Regions from separate parts of the Homo sapiens genome. Here region 2 is linked to region 1. The links come from fine-mapping of genetic effects on plasma protein levels. A gene starts in region 1. The other region holds a variant in brackets. All regions are shown on one strand. Distances are from middle to middle.

What was found. A credible set is the group of variants that fine-mapping cannot tell apart. PIP is the posterior inclusion probability: the model's chance that the variant is causal. Protein levels are from antibody-based Olink assays in UK Biobank. Linkage for the fine-mapping came from a reference panel and not from the study's own genotypes, which makes the PIPs less certain.
Region 2: its variant is the best candidate, but not a certain one, in a credible set for the plasma level of the GPRC5C protein (UK Biobank, PIP 0.54).

The regions. Positions count from the first base shown.
Region 1 is chr17:74,428,443-74,436,442 of GRCh38, reverse strand. GPRC5C (G protein-coupled receptor class C group 5 member C) reads right to left here and starts at 4,355. Exons shown (of 4, transcript NM_022036.4): 1 at 4,302-4,355. RefSeq lists a silencer at 5,343-5,482.
Region 2 is chr17:74,438,475-74,446,474 of GRCh38, reverse strand. It overlaps GPRC5C (G protein-coupled receptor class C group 5 member C), which reads right to left. Exons shown (of 4, transcript NM_022036.4): 2 at 5,648-6,730; 3 at 2,563-2,657. The coding sequence starts at 6,698. Among named protein-coding and RNA genes, the nearest start is that of GPRC5C, 10 kb to the right of the region's middle. RefSeq lists enhancers at 1,166-1,709, 1,710-2,254, 3,297-3,416. The variant G/C (reference allele first, on the strand shown) is at 3,642.

The sequences.
Region 1 (8,000 bases):
ACAGGCAGAGTAGAGAAAGACTGTTCCGCAGAGTTTTACTCAGAATCTAATAAAAAAACATACCAGGTCCCAGACACTGCCAAGAGACAGGGACACCCAAAAGCTAAGCCCTGAAGAATGTGAGGAAGGACTGAGCAGGTGAAGGGAACAAGGAGAGGGACGTGCAAGGCAGAAAAGATGGTGTGAATCAAAGCCCTTTGAGCCCAAGTCCAGAGCAAGTTAAAAAAGAATTCAGTTTGCCAAGTATCAGCTGAGTCTGCAAAGGGAGGCTGCAGCTGCTGGCTGACACATTGGAAATGCTACAGGGGTGGGGCTGGGGGCATTATCCTAAAGGCAACAGGCAGCCACTGAAGGCTGCTTTTAGCATCATGGGGGCATAGCCAGGGTTGCGCTTTTAGGAAAAGAGTCTGGCAAAAATGCACAGGCAATCGATTTGTTGGGGGGCACATTCATTCCAGTTTAAAGGTCAAGGCCAAAGGTAAAGCCATAATGGCCAGCTCTGAAAGATCCTTTCCAAAAAACAATCGAAGGACTGGTTGGATGGCGGAGGTGGGGGAAAAGGATACTAAAGCCCATACTACAAGTTCAAATCTAACAGGCATGTCATTACAGAAAACCAAGCCAGGGACCAATGTCACTCATTCTTCTTGATCCATCTTGCCCTAGAAATACTTGCCTGTACCCTGCTGGCTCCAAGAAGCCCACAGGCACTTGGGCTAGGGTCAGGAAAGCTTCACAGCTCTCTGTCCCTAAGCCCCCACCTCCAGTTTCCCCCTGATTTTGTGGTTGGTGACCAGCAACTTCCTTCTGCACCTGACCCTTCAAGTCTTGCTTCTCCTGCCAACCCCCTCAATATAGAAACTTTCAAGGAATGAGAGAGGAGCCTGTACCTGCCCCTCACCGCATCCAGGTACCATGCTGCTGCCCAGCAGCCAGGCTGCTGCTTTTAGTAAGTTGCTGAGTAACTTAACAGCCTCAGAGGAAACAACCTGGTCCCATCCTGAAATATCTTATTTCTCTGGTTCCCCCAGAAATGGAAGGGCAGGTGGGAAGACAGAAATACATGGACTCAGGTGGGAAACCTGGGCTTTCTGGGCGTGGCTCTCATCCACTGCCTAGGACAGGGACCCTCAGAGAGTTAAAGAGAAGCTCAGAAGAGCACAGCTCCAGCCCTCTGATGCCGGGAGTGCACATTCAGCCAATGCCTTTTTTTTTTCTTTTTTTGAGACGGAGTCTCGCTCTGTCGCCCAGGCTGGAGCGCAGTGGCGTGATCTCGGCTCACTGCAAGCTCCGCCTCCCAGGTTCATGCCATTCTCCTGCCTCAGCCTCCCGAGTAGCTGGGACTACAGGCGCCCGCCACCACGCCCGGCTAATTTTTTCTATTTTTAGTAGAGACGGGGTTTCACCGTGTTAGCTAGGATGGTCTCAATCTCCTGACCTCGTGATCCGCCCGCTTCGGCCTCCCAAAGTGCTGGGATTACAGGCGTGAGCCACTGCGCCCAGCCTTTTTTTTTTTCTTGAGACGAAGCTTCACTCTTGTTGCCCAGACTGGAGTGCAATGGCATGATCTCGGCTCACTGCAACCTCCAACTCCCAGGTTCAAGCAATTCTCCTGCCTCAGCCTCCCGAGTAGCTGGGATTACAGGTGCCCACCACCATGCCCAACTAATTTTTGTATTTTTAGTAGAGACAGGGTTTCACTATGTTGGCCAGGCTGGTCTCAAACTCCTGACCTAAGGTGATCCACCTACCTCAGCCTCTCAAAGTGCTGGGATTACAAGTGTGAGCCACCGTTCCCGGCCCAATGCCACCTTTTAAGATGGTGGCTAAGGGACTGACAAGATGGACTCAGCTCTGGTCAGAGGCTTTTCCTCAGGACCCTGGAGGAAACTTCTGCCTCCTGTGGGTCCCCAGACCCTGCACTAAGACTGAGCCTTCTGATCCCTGAACGTTCAAATCATGTCCGTGTCTCCCCTCCAGGGCTGTAAGGTCTTTGAAGCTGGTGAACAAGACTTCTAGAATCCACTGCCACAGCTGGTGCTGTGCCTGAACACAGTGGGCATTTGGAAGTCACCTCTGGATGGTCCCAGGTGCATTTCTCCACACCCAGGGTTGTCCCCTCCATGTTGGAGTTGCATCTTCTGCTTAAAGATTCTCAGAGGGTTCAAGGAGGGGGGTAGGAGGGGAACCTCCTTCCGCCCTGAGTCTCCCCCACCCCACAGCTGAAGCCCAGCTCCAGCCTCAGATTATTTTCTGGACAAAAGGGCCTTTTGCTTCACTTCCCTGGAATCAGTTGTACAAATATTTTTAATCGCCTCCGAAATCGGCCTTTCCCCAGGCTCAGCCACCCTGCCCCCAGCTCTCCTGTGAGTCAGTGCAGTCCAGTTGCTGAACCTCCCTCCTCCCTCCTTCTCTCTCCAGGGGGCGCAGAGGCCTGGTGGGCTCAGAGGCTCAGAGGCCCAGAGGCCCAAGCAGCCCTGACTGGTTTCCCCCAGCAACAAGTGGCTTCATCCAGCAACCGGGGAGACAGCCAGGCCTTCTCACTTCTCCAGAGCAAAACTCCCTTCCTCGCTCCAGCATCATCCACACACAAGCCTGAGACCCCCTCCACCCACCAGGGCCAAGGATACCGCACTGGAAAGAGAGCTCCAGCGCGTCACAGGGCCAACCAAACTCAACACTGACCCATGGCCAATGGCTGTCTTCAAGGGTGCTGTGACCAGGGCACTCTTCAGGGAGGTTCCCCCAGGGATACCACAGAGCACTTGCCTTCCTCCCATCCCACACACTCAAGAGCCTATAGGGAAAGACGATGGCCCGACTGACAGCCTTCCTGCCTCCACTCCTATCGGTCTCTCCCAGTCCCTGGTTAGGTCCCACTGTCTCACCCCTCTGTGCAGGGCGCTCAGGCGTTTACCCCATCGATAAGAAGGCGCACAGGAGACGCCTGTGCCTGGAAGGAGCGGCCTCAGTGTGTAGGTTGGTGGGGGGTGGGTTGGGGTTCCTCGAACCTCAGCCTAGACACCCCACCCCTATCCCCCTGCCCCTGCCCCGCACCAAGACCAGGCATTTGGGCCAAAATGCCCTGAGCTCTCTGAGACTTGGAAATCTTCAAGGGTCTGCTCTGGAATGTCACTCTGGAATGCGCCCCACCCCCCAATGCACTCCCTCCCCCAGTCCAGTTGAAGGCACAGGGGTGGGGGGCCGGCGGGGAGAGGAAGCTCCAGGAGCACAAAACCCTACTTCCAACAGTCTCCTCTCCCGGGCTTTAGGATCTTGATCGTGGAGTTTGTAAGTGATTGGGTCTTCCAGCGTGTAACACTGCGGGCCTGGGGATGGAGGTGCAAAGGACGCTGGAAAAGCCAGCCGGGAGTGGGGGTTCGGGATCTAGGGGCCAGGCTACCAGAAGGGGAGGCGCTTTGATAGTCTGAATTTCCAAACTTCCCTCAGGGGGATTCTGAACCCTCTCGTCCCTACTTGGGTCGACGGTACTGGGGTCTACACCTGCGCTCCCTGGGTGGCTGGAATGGGGAGCAAGGGAACCAGTCACTCTCTCCCATTTTTAGGGCCACAGAAACCTGCCCTCCACATCCACAGTAGCAGGCGGCAGAGAGGACGCCACCCACGAGAGAGAGTGACCGCGGACTCCCACCGAGAGGCAGGCGGTGGAGGGGCTCCTCTTGGAGACCCCGATTATGGAGTGGTTTCCCCTCCCTCCAGCCCGAGCCGCAGCGCCGGGCTCCCCCACCCCCCCAGTCCCCAGCCGGCTCGGGTTTGAAAACTTTCAGCGACCGAGCGGAGTTGGCGCGGCGTCCCCAGCCCGCAGGATGTCCAGTCCCCCCGCCTCTGCCCTCGCCCACTCCCCGCCGTCCCGACCCGACTCTTCCGGGCGGCGGAGCGGGAAGGCAGCAGCCCTTACCTGGGACTCGCCGCCGGCCCCGCTCCAGCGCAGCGTTTGGGGCCAACTCCAGCCCCAGGCGGGGGGCGGGCGGGGGTGGGAGGGACGCGGCGCGGGGCGCTGGGCCAGGCCCGGTCCTGGCTGGGATGGCGGGGCCCGGGCCGGGACGCAGGGCCTGCCTCTCCCTGGGACCGAGGCTGAGCCAGGCGCGCTGGGTTGCTCGCTCTCGCGCGGGCCTGTCCCCAGGCAGGGCTCCTTGCTTTCGGCGAGGGTGGGCTGGAGCCTGCATCACCGTTACATCACCTCCATTCAGGGCGCTAATCGGGCGCCCGCCGCGCTCCAGGTACGTGCGCTCCGTTTACACAGGAACAAAGCCTGCCCGGCCCTCCCCGCCCCGACTCACCTCCAGGCTGAGCCGACTCGTACTTTCCGGCTGGTGAGGGAGATGGGAGTTTCTGGCCCTGCCGGCGTGTGGGTTGTTGCTGTTGACTGCCACGCCCCCGCATGCGGGCGCGCGCACACTCACGCGCACTCACTTTCTGGGCTCGGCCTTCGCCGGGGCAATTGGTGTGAGGGTGCAGCCCTGCGCACCCCCCACCGCGTCTTCCAGAGAGCGCGCCTACGGACACGCGCGGGGCTACCTTGGCGCGTCTCCGTGGGGGACACCTAGCCTTTGTCACCTTCGTCCTGGCCCTCCCGTGAGACACACTTCAGGCACAGTTCGCTGGGAGCGGGCCGGAGCGAGGCGCACACTCAAGACAGAGTCCGTCTTTGTCACGCCTTCTGCGCCCCCTCCCCTCCCCAGCTTGCACACGTGGACACACCGCACACCGAGGTTCGCCTTTTGCACGCACGGTCCTTCTCTGGGACCTCCACCAGTCACCAAGCGTACGTGGGATCGTCACCAAGCGCTCCTCTCACGCGTGGGCCGAGTCCAGACCACTCTGGACCGTGGGCAAAGGTCCCCCTCGGCCCGACTACCCCGCGCCCGGGTTTCCTGTGACCGTTCCAGGTTCTGCCCAACTCGGAGCGCGCTCTCCCCTCCCGGCGTCCCCGTTCCCTGCTCCGACTTGTCCTAATTAGCCTTCACGGTTTTGTTCCCCGAGGTACAGTGTTTAGCGCGACCCCCTGGGCCTCTGCGCTCCGGGACACGTTGGCTCTGACTCCGAGTCCGTCCTTTCCAGGAGGTCAGGTTCCCACCAGCCCCACCCCCCACTCCCTGTTCCGGGGTGGATCTGTGGGTTGCCACCCTTTCCCCTCCGGCCCCAGGAATCTGCTGAAGCTGGACCGCAGAAATTGGGAAGCGAATCCAGGCTGGTACTTATCCAGCCCGATAAACAAGAGATTTTCCGGCCGCCTTCCCCCGGGGCTGCTGGCCTCGCGGGGGGTGGGGTGCGCAGTCCTGGGGGCCCGCAGCGAGGCCTAGTTAGCCCGCGCCAGAGGCCCGTAGGGGCTGAGGCGCACAGAGGAGGGAGAGGTTGTTGGGCCTGGCCAGGGCCCTGGAGACGCGGAGGGAGGGCAGGGCGCCGAGTCTCGGGGTGCCGGTTCTCATGACGCCGAATTGCCTGGGGGATCGCCAGCGGTGCGCCGGTCGGAGCCAGCTGGTGGCGGGGCGGGCGGCCCGGAGTGTTTGCTCAACCCTGAGCGCCCGCGAGGGGGAGGGGAGGCAGCTGGTCACGGGCTAGGGGGTAGCAAGGTGGAGGAGCGGGGGCTGGGAAAGGGGAGGGTATCTCCCGGGCTGCTTGTTTGCGTGCCTGCCGCGGTCTACGACAACCGGGAGTCTAAACTCTATGAATCACCCGGAGTTGCTGGAGCGATAAACCTCAGGCTGGTTCCTCCCCTCGCACACCGGCTTCTCGGACTCCTGGAGGGAATGTTTGCTTAGCGGCCGGAGCTGGCGGTGAGGCCCTGGTTCTCTAGAACCCTGTATCCCTTCCTGGCCTTGCCCTCACGGGCTGGTCTGGGGTGGCGAAGACTGAATTGTTTCAAGTCTCTTCAATATTAAGAAGAGGGGCGCAGTGCTGCTGCTGATCTGTTGCTCACTCCTGGGCTCCCTTCCGTAGCTCCACCTCCCACCCTAAGATTCAGAGGCCCCCATGCCAGGGAGGCAAACGCTTGTAGGGTCCAAGCAGTTGAGTGCCAACGCTAGAAAGGCAAACGGCGGGTCAGACCTAGGCGAGGGGCATCCGTGACTGTGGGCTGGGACTAGTTCTCGTGAAGCAGGCAACTGGTGCTGAACACAGTGTGCTGGGAGGGGCCGCTCATTAGCATATGTGAAAAGCCAGCTAAGAGCTAGAGGAAGGTGGAATGGAAATAGTCCCCGAGACTGCTTGTGACCTTAAGAAGCCAAAGATGAATTGTGGATCTGGCAGATCTGTTTCAATTTATTTTCAAGCTTTGGGAATCTCTTTTCCCTACCTAGATTCTCCAAAAAGGCAACTCTTTACCACTCCCTCCCGACCCAGGCGGGGGAAAGGCTGGGGCATCTGAGGCCTGGACGGAGCAGCGGAGCCCTGCCCACTGCCAGCCCTGCATGGTAGATGGCGGCGGATATGTAGGGAGGTTTCCTGAGAGCTGTTTGCTCTTTTTGTGTTCACTCCGTCTCACTTCCTGGGCAGGATTTGCCTTTAAAGGACAAAGCAAGTCCTTTGGGGCCGATGACATGGGCTTCAGCCTTCAGGGTCCCTGTTGGTCTCTGCTCTAGTCCCGGGGGCCTGTGCTGGTCCAGAGTGGGGAGGCAAGAGTTGGAGAAGGCATGAGACCCCTCCACCATGAGTCAGACCCTGGTGGGGGCTGCTGGACCCAGCGAGCCTGTGATGCTGGAAGGGAAGTTCTGTGGGAGGTGGCGCTGCTTTCCGAGACTCCAGCCACAGGGTCCTCTGTGCCCCCAAATGTCCTTCACTTTGATTTAATACCCCAGTAGGCGTAGAACCCATTGCAAACTCTGTTTTCACCAAAAAACTACACTCTGAGAAGTGTTCAAAGAGTGCTACTGTTCAAAGAGATCTTGAGGCCCAGCACAGTGACTCACGCCTATAATCCCAGCATTTTGGGAGTCCTAGGTGGGAGGATCGCATGAGCCCAGGAGTTGGAGACCAGCCTGGGCAACATAGACTTCATCTCTATTGAAACAAACGAAAAAGAAAATAGATATGGGGTCTCACTGTGTTGCTCTGGCTGGTCTTGAACTCTTGAGCTCCAGCGATCTTTCCGCCTCGGCCTCCCAAAGTGCTGGGATTCCAGGTATGAACCACTGCGCTCAGCCTATTTATTTTATTTTTTTTAATATATGAAATAAAAAGGAAAAAAAAAGATTCTGGATTGCGGAGAAGCATGTCTGTGTCCACCACCCAACTACCTCCACCCCCACCTGAGTTGGATTCCTACTGGCAGAGTGAGAAACCCTTTGTTCGTTGGAAAGCCTCCTTCAGAGATGTCTGAGGTCTTGACAAGGCCCAAAGGTGGGAACACCTGTGCCACCTGCCGGCTGTGTGACTTGGATGAGTTGCTTCATCTCTCTGAGCCCTGCTTTCCTCAACTGTAAAACTGGATGATAACATCACCCCCAGAATGAAGCTGTGTCTGGAATGTTCCTCACACAAGCCTGGTGCTTACAGGGAGCCAGCGATCAGCCTCCCCTTTCCTGGCATGATTGTCATTCCCTCTAAGCCTTGACAGGTCTGACAGTTTTTATTTATAATTTAAATTTAAATTAATCAATTATTTTTGAAACAGGATCTCACTCTGTCACCCCAGCTGGAGTGCGGTGCTGCGATCTCGGCTCAGTGCAGCCTCAACTTCCCAGGCTCAAGCAACCCTCCTGCCTCAGCCTCTCGAGTAGCTGGGACTATAGGAGTGCATCATCATGCATGGCTAATTTTTGCATTTTTTTGTAGAGATGGGGTCTCACTATGTTGCCCAGGCTGGTCTGGAACTCCTAGGCTCAAGCAATCCTCCCTCCTTGTCCTCCCAAAGTGCTGGGATTACAGGCATGAGCCACCGTGCTTGGCCTAATGGTTTTTAACCCAAACTCTTGCAGAAGCTGGCATTCTTTCAGTTCTGTTTCACCATGATTGGAATAGCTTTGCCATGCCATGCTCTG
Region 2 (8,000 bases), 10 kb before region 1:
CAAGAATCTTTTTTTTTTTTTTTGAGACGGAGTCTCGCTCTGTCGCCCAGGCTGGAGTGCAGTGGCGTGATCTCGGCCAACTGCAAACTCTGCCTCCCGGGTTCACGCCATTCTCCTGCCTCAGCCTCCCGAGTAGCTGGGACTACAGGAGCCCGCCACCGTGCCCGGCTAATTTTTTGTATTTTTATTAGAGACGGTGTTTCATCATGTTAGCCAGGATGGTCTCAATCTCCTGACCTCGTGATCCACCCGCCTCGGCTTCCCAAAGTGCCGGGATTATAGGTGTGAGCCACCATGCCCGGCTCCTCCAAGAATATTACCCCGAGTCGACCGCCTGTCACTACCATACCCCCAGCATCACAGTTGCTGGCTTCCCTGGCGGAGGACATGGCTCTGGGTGTGCCCACACATCTCTCTAGGCATCTAGTCTGGCCGGTCTGATTTGGAGTCTTTTTTTTTTTTTTGTAGAGATGGTGGGCGGGGGGGGGGGGTCTCACTACGTTGCCAGGGCTGCTCTCGAACCCTCGGCCTCAAGCAGTTCTCCCATGTCAGTCTCCCAGAGCACTGGGATTAAAGGCATGAGCCACTGCAACCAGCCCTGATTTGGAGTCTTGAAACCTGAATTCTCTGCCTGGCGCTGGGTCTTGCTCCCATGTGGGTGAGAGACACCAGCTGTGGGGTGAAGAGGGTCCTGAGGTACCTGTTCCGGCTCCTATGCTGGAGGAAAGGTGTATTCCTGGCCCCATCTGTCTTAGCCCTATGGGAAAGAGCTGCCACCAAATCTCTGTAGCTCCCAGACCCCAAACTAGCCTTCAAGTCAATCAGGCCCAGGAGGTCCTCAGGCCTGTCTGCAATGGCCCCTGTCCATGTGGTCCCTGGAACATCTACATCTGTGGTCCAAAACCACAGATGAGTGTGCATTGGAATCACCTGCACTGCTTGTTAAGCCTCACCAACTCATAGCTGGACCCTACACAGTCCCCACGCAGACTCCACCAACTCATAGCTGGACCCTACACAGTCCCCACCCAACACAGCTGGCCCCATGCAGCTGGCAACAGCTGGGGCTGGGGGAGGGAGTGCTGAATGCTGGGCTTGCAGATCTGCGCTGGATAGTGCCCCCATGGTGCCGACGCCCTGAACGGATGCTAACAGTCAGCTCCATCCCAGCTCTGGCCCCGCCCCATCTGCACTTTTTTTTTTTTTTCTTATTTATTTATTTTTGGAGACAGAGTCTCACTCTGTTGTCCAGGCTGGAGTGCAGTGGTACAGTCTGTGCTCACTGCAACCTCCACCTCCCGGGTTCAAGGGATCCTCTGGCTAAGGCCTTCCTAGTAGCTGGGACTACAGGCATGTGCCACTATGCCTGGCTGATTTTTGTGTTTTTAGTAGAGATGAGGTTTCAGCATGTTGGCCAGGCTGGTCTCAAACTCCTGACCTCAGGTGATCCACCTGCCTCAGCCTCTCAAAGTACTGGGATTACAGGTGTGAGCCATTGTGCCTGGCCCCCATTTGCACTTTGAGCAGGCTCCCAGGTGAGGCTAGTGCTGGTGGTCCGGGTACCATGTTTTGAGAACCGGTCAGATAAAATATCCCTGTTAATCCAGATCATCCCCCAGGAAGCAGACTCCAAACGCGCTGGGGAGTGAGGTGCAGCAACAGTGAAGGAAGCTATTCAGCAAAGGCTTCTGTGGCTGCCCACTCCCCGCCAGAGCTGACAGCCCGCAGCCTCCACTCCTGGTGCTCCGGAAGCTCTCCTCTGCCCAGGCTCAGGTTCAGGCTCAGGGAGAGGGGAGGCGCTGGGATTGGAAGCTTCAGCCACACTCACCTCCCCCTGCCCCGCGGCTCTCACAGAGAGGGCGGGGAGGGGGATGAGAACGCCACCCAGCTGACCTCCTTGTTTCCTGTTCCCAGTGTCCTGCCAAGACGGGTCACTGACCTCTCCCCACAGCCTCTGCCAGCCGGGAGGAGGAACACATATAGGAGTGAGTAGAATCCAACCCACCGTCTTCCTGCTCCCTCCCCCTCCCCTGGCTAACGATGCTTCTAGTTTCCAGAACCCAGGGGGAGGTGTAAGGTCGAGACTTGCTGCCTGCCAGAGAGGGAGGAGAGTGTGGGCCCCCTTGGCACAGCTGTGGTTGAGAAGTAAACACCTATCCAGACCTGTGACATTTGGACCCCTGTCTATTTTGGGAGCACCTGGCTGAGACCCTCCTTTGTCCCTCCCCAAGCCCTCCAGGGTAAAGCTGGCAGCTCCCACCAGGGAGAGCTCACCCAGCATTCCCTATAGCATCCCGACACAACCTGTGTGCAATGCCCCAGTGACACAGGGCGGGTCCCACTGCAGTGCAGCTGAAGGTGGTGGGTACACTGACTCCAGGACAAGGAATTTAAGAACTGGGGCTCTGGATTCCCCAGGTAAAAGCACCAGATGGAGAAGCTTGCCTTCCCCTTACCACCTCCACCCAACCCAGCTCTGGCCACATGGCCTTCTCCCACTGGCCTGCTGAGGCTGGTCTCTGTAGCCCAGACGTGTCACGGGGACCTGGGGAACCCACTTACCGGAACTTTGTGCATCAGGGCCATCTCAGTGGGCTGGTACACACTGGTCAGCAGCTGCCCATTGTACCCGCTGTATGGTGACACCGGCCTCTTAGCTACAAGGAAAAGCAGGAACAGTTTGAAGATCCCAGGGCTCTCAGCTCCCTTCCCCACCTCCCACAAACCAAGCAAGGCTCTCTGGGGGCAGGGAAGAGGTAAAGGGGGCAGGCCAACCCTGGCATAGTCTCTAACCCAGGAGTGGCCAACTTGGGGGTGAGGTTGTGAACACGGGGGCCCCCTCCCAAGCCTAGCACCCCTTTGTACAGATGCATGGGAGTGAACAACACTGCTGAGCTTCCCTGCACTGTAGACACCCCAGCCCCTGACCCAACAGCTCAGAAAATGCTCTGTCAGCAACTTCCACATCCCCATCCGCCCTCCGGGGCCAGAGGCCAAGAGGACACATGGGCCTTCGGCCGCCTTCCAAGATGGCCAGCCTCCAGCTCTGCCTGTCACCACGGGCCAGCTGCCAGGCACAGAGGTAAATACATCTGAGAGCCCTCGGCCTAAGCCTGTTCATGTCCTCCCAGGGCCGACCTGGGCGCCCCTTCCCCACTACACCAACCCAGAGCCTGGCCAGGGAGCCTTAACGCACGTCCCAGCCTGTGGCCCCCTGGCAAGTTTCCAGAACTATTTTTAGCTCCAGGGATACTTCCTTGTGCCTTTGGGGTGTTGGTTTCCCGGTGTGTTCCGCCCTGCTGGGCACTCCCAGGGTGTTTGAGGAGGGCTGCTGACGCACCCCGGGGCCTCGGAGCAGGCCTTGCTGTGAGGACGGCACAGCGGACGTCTGGCTCCGGCAAGGCTGACGGCCCTGCAGTTCTGAGGGACCGCAACCTATATAGAGTTTCCTAAGTGCTGGGGCTGGGCTCACTCTATTGATTTTTCCATTTAGAAAAAAAAAAAGGAAGTAAAAACTCAGCCCCAAGGTTGAGAACCATTTGGCCCCGACCGGCATTCAGTGTGGGGGCGGGGCCTGAGGCTCCTCCCAGCACTTGTCTGTAAGCCCCACCTCTCTGGTGGGTTTTGCCAATTCCACCCCC[G/C]CCATGCACACCGTGCGTGTGACAGGGGCCACCCAGGGGTGAGGCCAGCACCTCAGCCCAGGTGGGCAGATCAAAGATCAAGTGCCCGGCAGGACAAGGGTCATCTCTTTCTCCAAAGCAGGGATTATGAGGATTTCACAGTGTGTAGAAGAGAAAGGAATGTCTCTGATTCTGGAACTTCCACTGCCTGACTCTGACCTCCCAGCAGAGACCCCAGAGCCGGTGCTTGTTAACCGGGCAGTTAAGAAAGTCTGAAGCCCCCAGGCCTCCAGATCAGCACAGTCTGGGGGCAGGGTCAGGACTTTGAGATGGCACCCCCAAATTTCCAGGTCATGTCAGATGAGGGGCTGCAGCCAGCAGGCTGAGGAAGAGCAGGTGGGATGCGTGCAATGGGCCACATCGGTAAGGGGATTAGCACAGGGGCTGGCACAGAGCAGGTGCTGAGGAAATGCTAGTGGGCTGTACAGCTAACAAGGGCGCTGCTGAGACCACTACACGGCACCCCAAATACTTTTATTAAAAAGAGAAAAAGGCCAGGTGCAGTGGCTCACACCTGTAATCCCAGCACTTTGGGATGCCGAGGCAGGCGGATCACTTGAGGTTAGCAGTTCGAGACCAGCCTGGCCAACATAGTGAAATCCCGTCTCTATTAAAAATACAAAAATTAGCCAGGTGTGGTGGCACGTGCCTGTAATCCCAGCTACTTGGGAGGCTGAGGCAGGAGAATCTCTTGAGCCCGGGAGGCGGAGGTTGCAGTGAGCCAAGATCACACCACTGTACTCCAGCCTGGGTGACAGAGCGAGACTCCGTCTCAAAAAATAAAAAAAGAGAAAAAAATTACCTGAAAAATACTTCCTTTTAAAGAAAACTAAGGTGATTATGGATACATACATAATAGAAAAACAAGTTCTGGAAGGATAGTATTAGTAAAATATGTAAAATAATAGACACGCACACACAGCAAATAGCTAATTCTTCAAGAGTGCTTTTCATGGGCCGGGCACTAAGTAATTTTTTTTTTTTTTGAGATCATCCAGGCTGGAATGTGGTGGTGCAATCACGGCTCACTGAAGCCTCAACCTCCTGGGCTCAGGCAATCCTCCTGCCTCAGCCTCCTGAGGAGCTGGGACCATAGGCATGCACTACCACACCTGGCTAATTTTTGAAATTATTTGTAGAGACGGGGCCTCACTATGTTGTCCAGGCCGGTCTCAAACTCCTAGGCTCAAGCTCCACTCACCTCAGCCTCCCAAAGTGCTGGGATTACAGGTGTGAGCCATGGCGCCCAGCCGGCACTAATTAATTCAATCCTCACAAGAACCCTATGAAATAGGTACTGACATTATCCCCATTTTACAAATGGAGAAACAAAGGCACATAGATATTATATCAGTCAATAGTGGTCACTTCTGGGGATGGAACAGGATGGGACGGGTAGGACTGGGGAGGCAGCTGGGGAAAATTTCATTTTATCTGTAATGTTTGAAATTTTACAGTGAGAATGTATGCATGAATTATATGAATATAGAAAAAAAATCTTATTTATTTATTTATTTTGAGATGGAGTCTTGCTCTGTCACCCAGGCTGGAGTGTAGTGGCTCGATTTTGGCTCACTGCAACCTCCGCCTCCCAGGTTCAAGTGATTCTCCCGCCTCAGCCTCCCGAGTAGCTGAGATCACAGGCATGAGCCAGCACACCCAGCTAATTTTTTTGGATTTCTAGTAGAGACGGGGTTTCACCATGTGGATCAGGCTGGTCTCGAACTCCTCGTCTCAAGTGATCCACCCGCCTTGGCCTCCCAAAGTGCTAGGATTACAGGCATGATCTACCATGCCCAACTGAAAAAAAAAAATCTTTAAATTAAATGGAATTTAGAGACACTTAGGCAGAAAACTACAGAAAACCTCAAAAACTTTCCATTTTGCTCAAGAGACTGGCTCCCTGTCCTGCAGTAAAAGACATGGGATGGAGAAAGGGGCCACTGGGGGCATCCACAGAGACCCACCTGCAACCGGCTCATCCATGGAAAAGGCCTTGTTCTCCACGAACATGCTCTGACCCTTCTGCTCTTTCAGGATGGTCTCATAGCCCACGCCCCGGGTGGGGTACATGTCCCCCTGGTAGCTTTGCTCTGGGCTGGACTTGGTCACCTGGGAGACCTCGGGGATGACGTAGAAGAGGACGAAGGCCCAGGCATTGGCGGCGAGGGCGATGGCCAGCGTGGGGTCATCCCAGGTGGGACTGTTGTGCTGCTTGTTGCCGTAAGTATACATGACGATCCACACCACCCATATGGCAACGGAGGTGGCTGTGGTGAGGAGCACAAAGACCCCATGCTTACGCCAGCGCTTGTAGCGGCCACACAGGGCGGGCCAGGCCCCCAGGAAGGCACCCAGCAGCAGCAGCATGACGTAGATGAGTGCCATGACAAAGTCCATGTTGGCGATGGCACAGGGGGAGGCCACGGCCCAGCCTGCGCTGCTGTTGCCCTGAGGGCCGCCCTCGCCACTGCCCCGAACCAGGGTGATGATCAGCCACTCTGTATTGATGATGACCTCTACCAGGGTCAGCAGCAGAGCCACAGTGAAGATCACCCAGCCCCGGGGCCCGTGGTTCTTCCGGGCCAGGAAGTTGAGGGCAAAGACGTGAGCCGCCAGACAAGAGAAGCAGATGGCGAACAGAACCCCAAAGAGGAAGCGCCGAGAGGCACAGGTGGAGAAGTCGGGCTTCACCACACAGGCAAACACGAGGCAGAAGAGGCCCAGGGTCCCCAGAAGGAAGAATACCTGGGTCCCCAGCAGGCTCCGTTTCTTGGTGTCCTGCACAAAGGGGAGGCTGGCCACCAGGATGATGGTGAGCACAAACGTGGTGACAATGCCCGCCCCAGCCACGGCCTCCAGGACGATGCCCCACGCCCCAGAGCGGTCACACAGGTTGTAGTACAGGGGGTTGAGGCCTTGGCTGCAGCCGGGTGGGACATGGCCCTGGGCCCAGGCCCCTGGGAACAGGAAGAGAGGCAGTCCCAGGCACATCACCAAGGCTTTGTGGATGGCCATCCTGGCTCCCAGGCCAGGCTCTGGTTGGGTCCCTAGAGACAGAAGGAAAAGGGACAAAATTAGTCCTCCAAGATCAGACTCCAATATACATGGTGCTGCTTCCCCCAACCTAAACCCAGGCAGATAGTGCTAGCTGCTGACCGTGAGGCTCTCTGGACCTCAGAATCCTTCTTAACATAGAACCCCTGAGAGGCATTTCAACTGGCCACAGAGGCAAATGAGATGAAGCCCATTTGTCAGCCCTATTCCTAGCCATGGCAAAAGAAAAACCTGTCATTGAATTTTCAGTTCCCTCCCTTCCACCAAACATAACCTGGGTTCAGATATTCCCTGAGCTCTGGCGGCCACGGTGGAGGATGAAGGGGCTTGTGAACAAGTCAAGACCAAGCATACCACCCACCCAGTACCTCCTCTCTGCCCTGGGACTTTCAGGCTTCAGGAGGTCAGCTGCTATGCCCCTAAACTCCATTCCTGTGAGGCCTAAATCCACAGCCAGTCAGCTATGTGTTCATTCATTCATTCAATAGACTTAACAAGCAGCTGCAGCAGGCATAACCAACAGCCAGGAAAAATGAAGAGACAGTCATTTTCCCACTTTTAGTGCCAAGTCTCCAGTTCAGAATCCTCCATTTTTTGCCTAGCTCGGAAGCGGAAGTCAAGGGTGAAATAAACGAAGTCCCCAGCTAAGGAGTTAATGACTTAATGCAAAAATTTTCCTTCGGAGCATTAACATTTTAAAAGTAAGAACCAGGCAAGGGCAATGCAAAACCCAAAGGAATTAATCTTTAATAGAAGACTTTAAGACGTTGTAGCTAGAAGGCAAGAAAATTAGCTTTTATTAACACCAGCAAGGTAATTTTCACTCCATCTACTGACTGCCGCTCTACCAAATGCCACAGATCTGTGCCAGAGAAGAAAACCAAACTCCTGCTCCCAATACCAATTGGATTTTCCCACGTGAAGTGGAGGTAATGGATTTAACAGGTTAAGAAATATTAAAGACCAAATCAATGAGTTTTTTTCCAATCAAAAGTTTTAAATGTACTTGGAGGAAACCTAACACTGAAAATTTAAATGCTGCTGGGCACGGTGGTTCATGCCTATAATCCCAGCACTTTGGGAGGTCAAGGTGAACAGATTGCTAGAGTCCAGGAGTTTGAGACCAGCCTGGGCAACATGGTGAAACCCCGTCTCTATAAAAAACACAAAAATTAGCAGCTGGGTGCAGTGGCTCACGCCTGTAATCCCAGCACTTTGGGAGGCCAAGACTGGTGGATCACTTGAGGTCAGGAGTTCGAGACC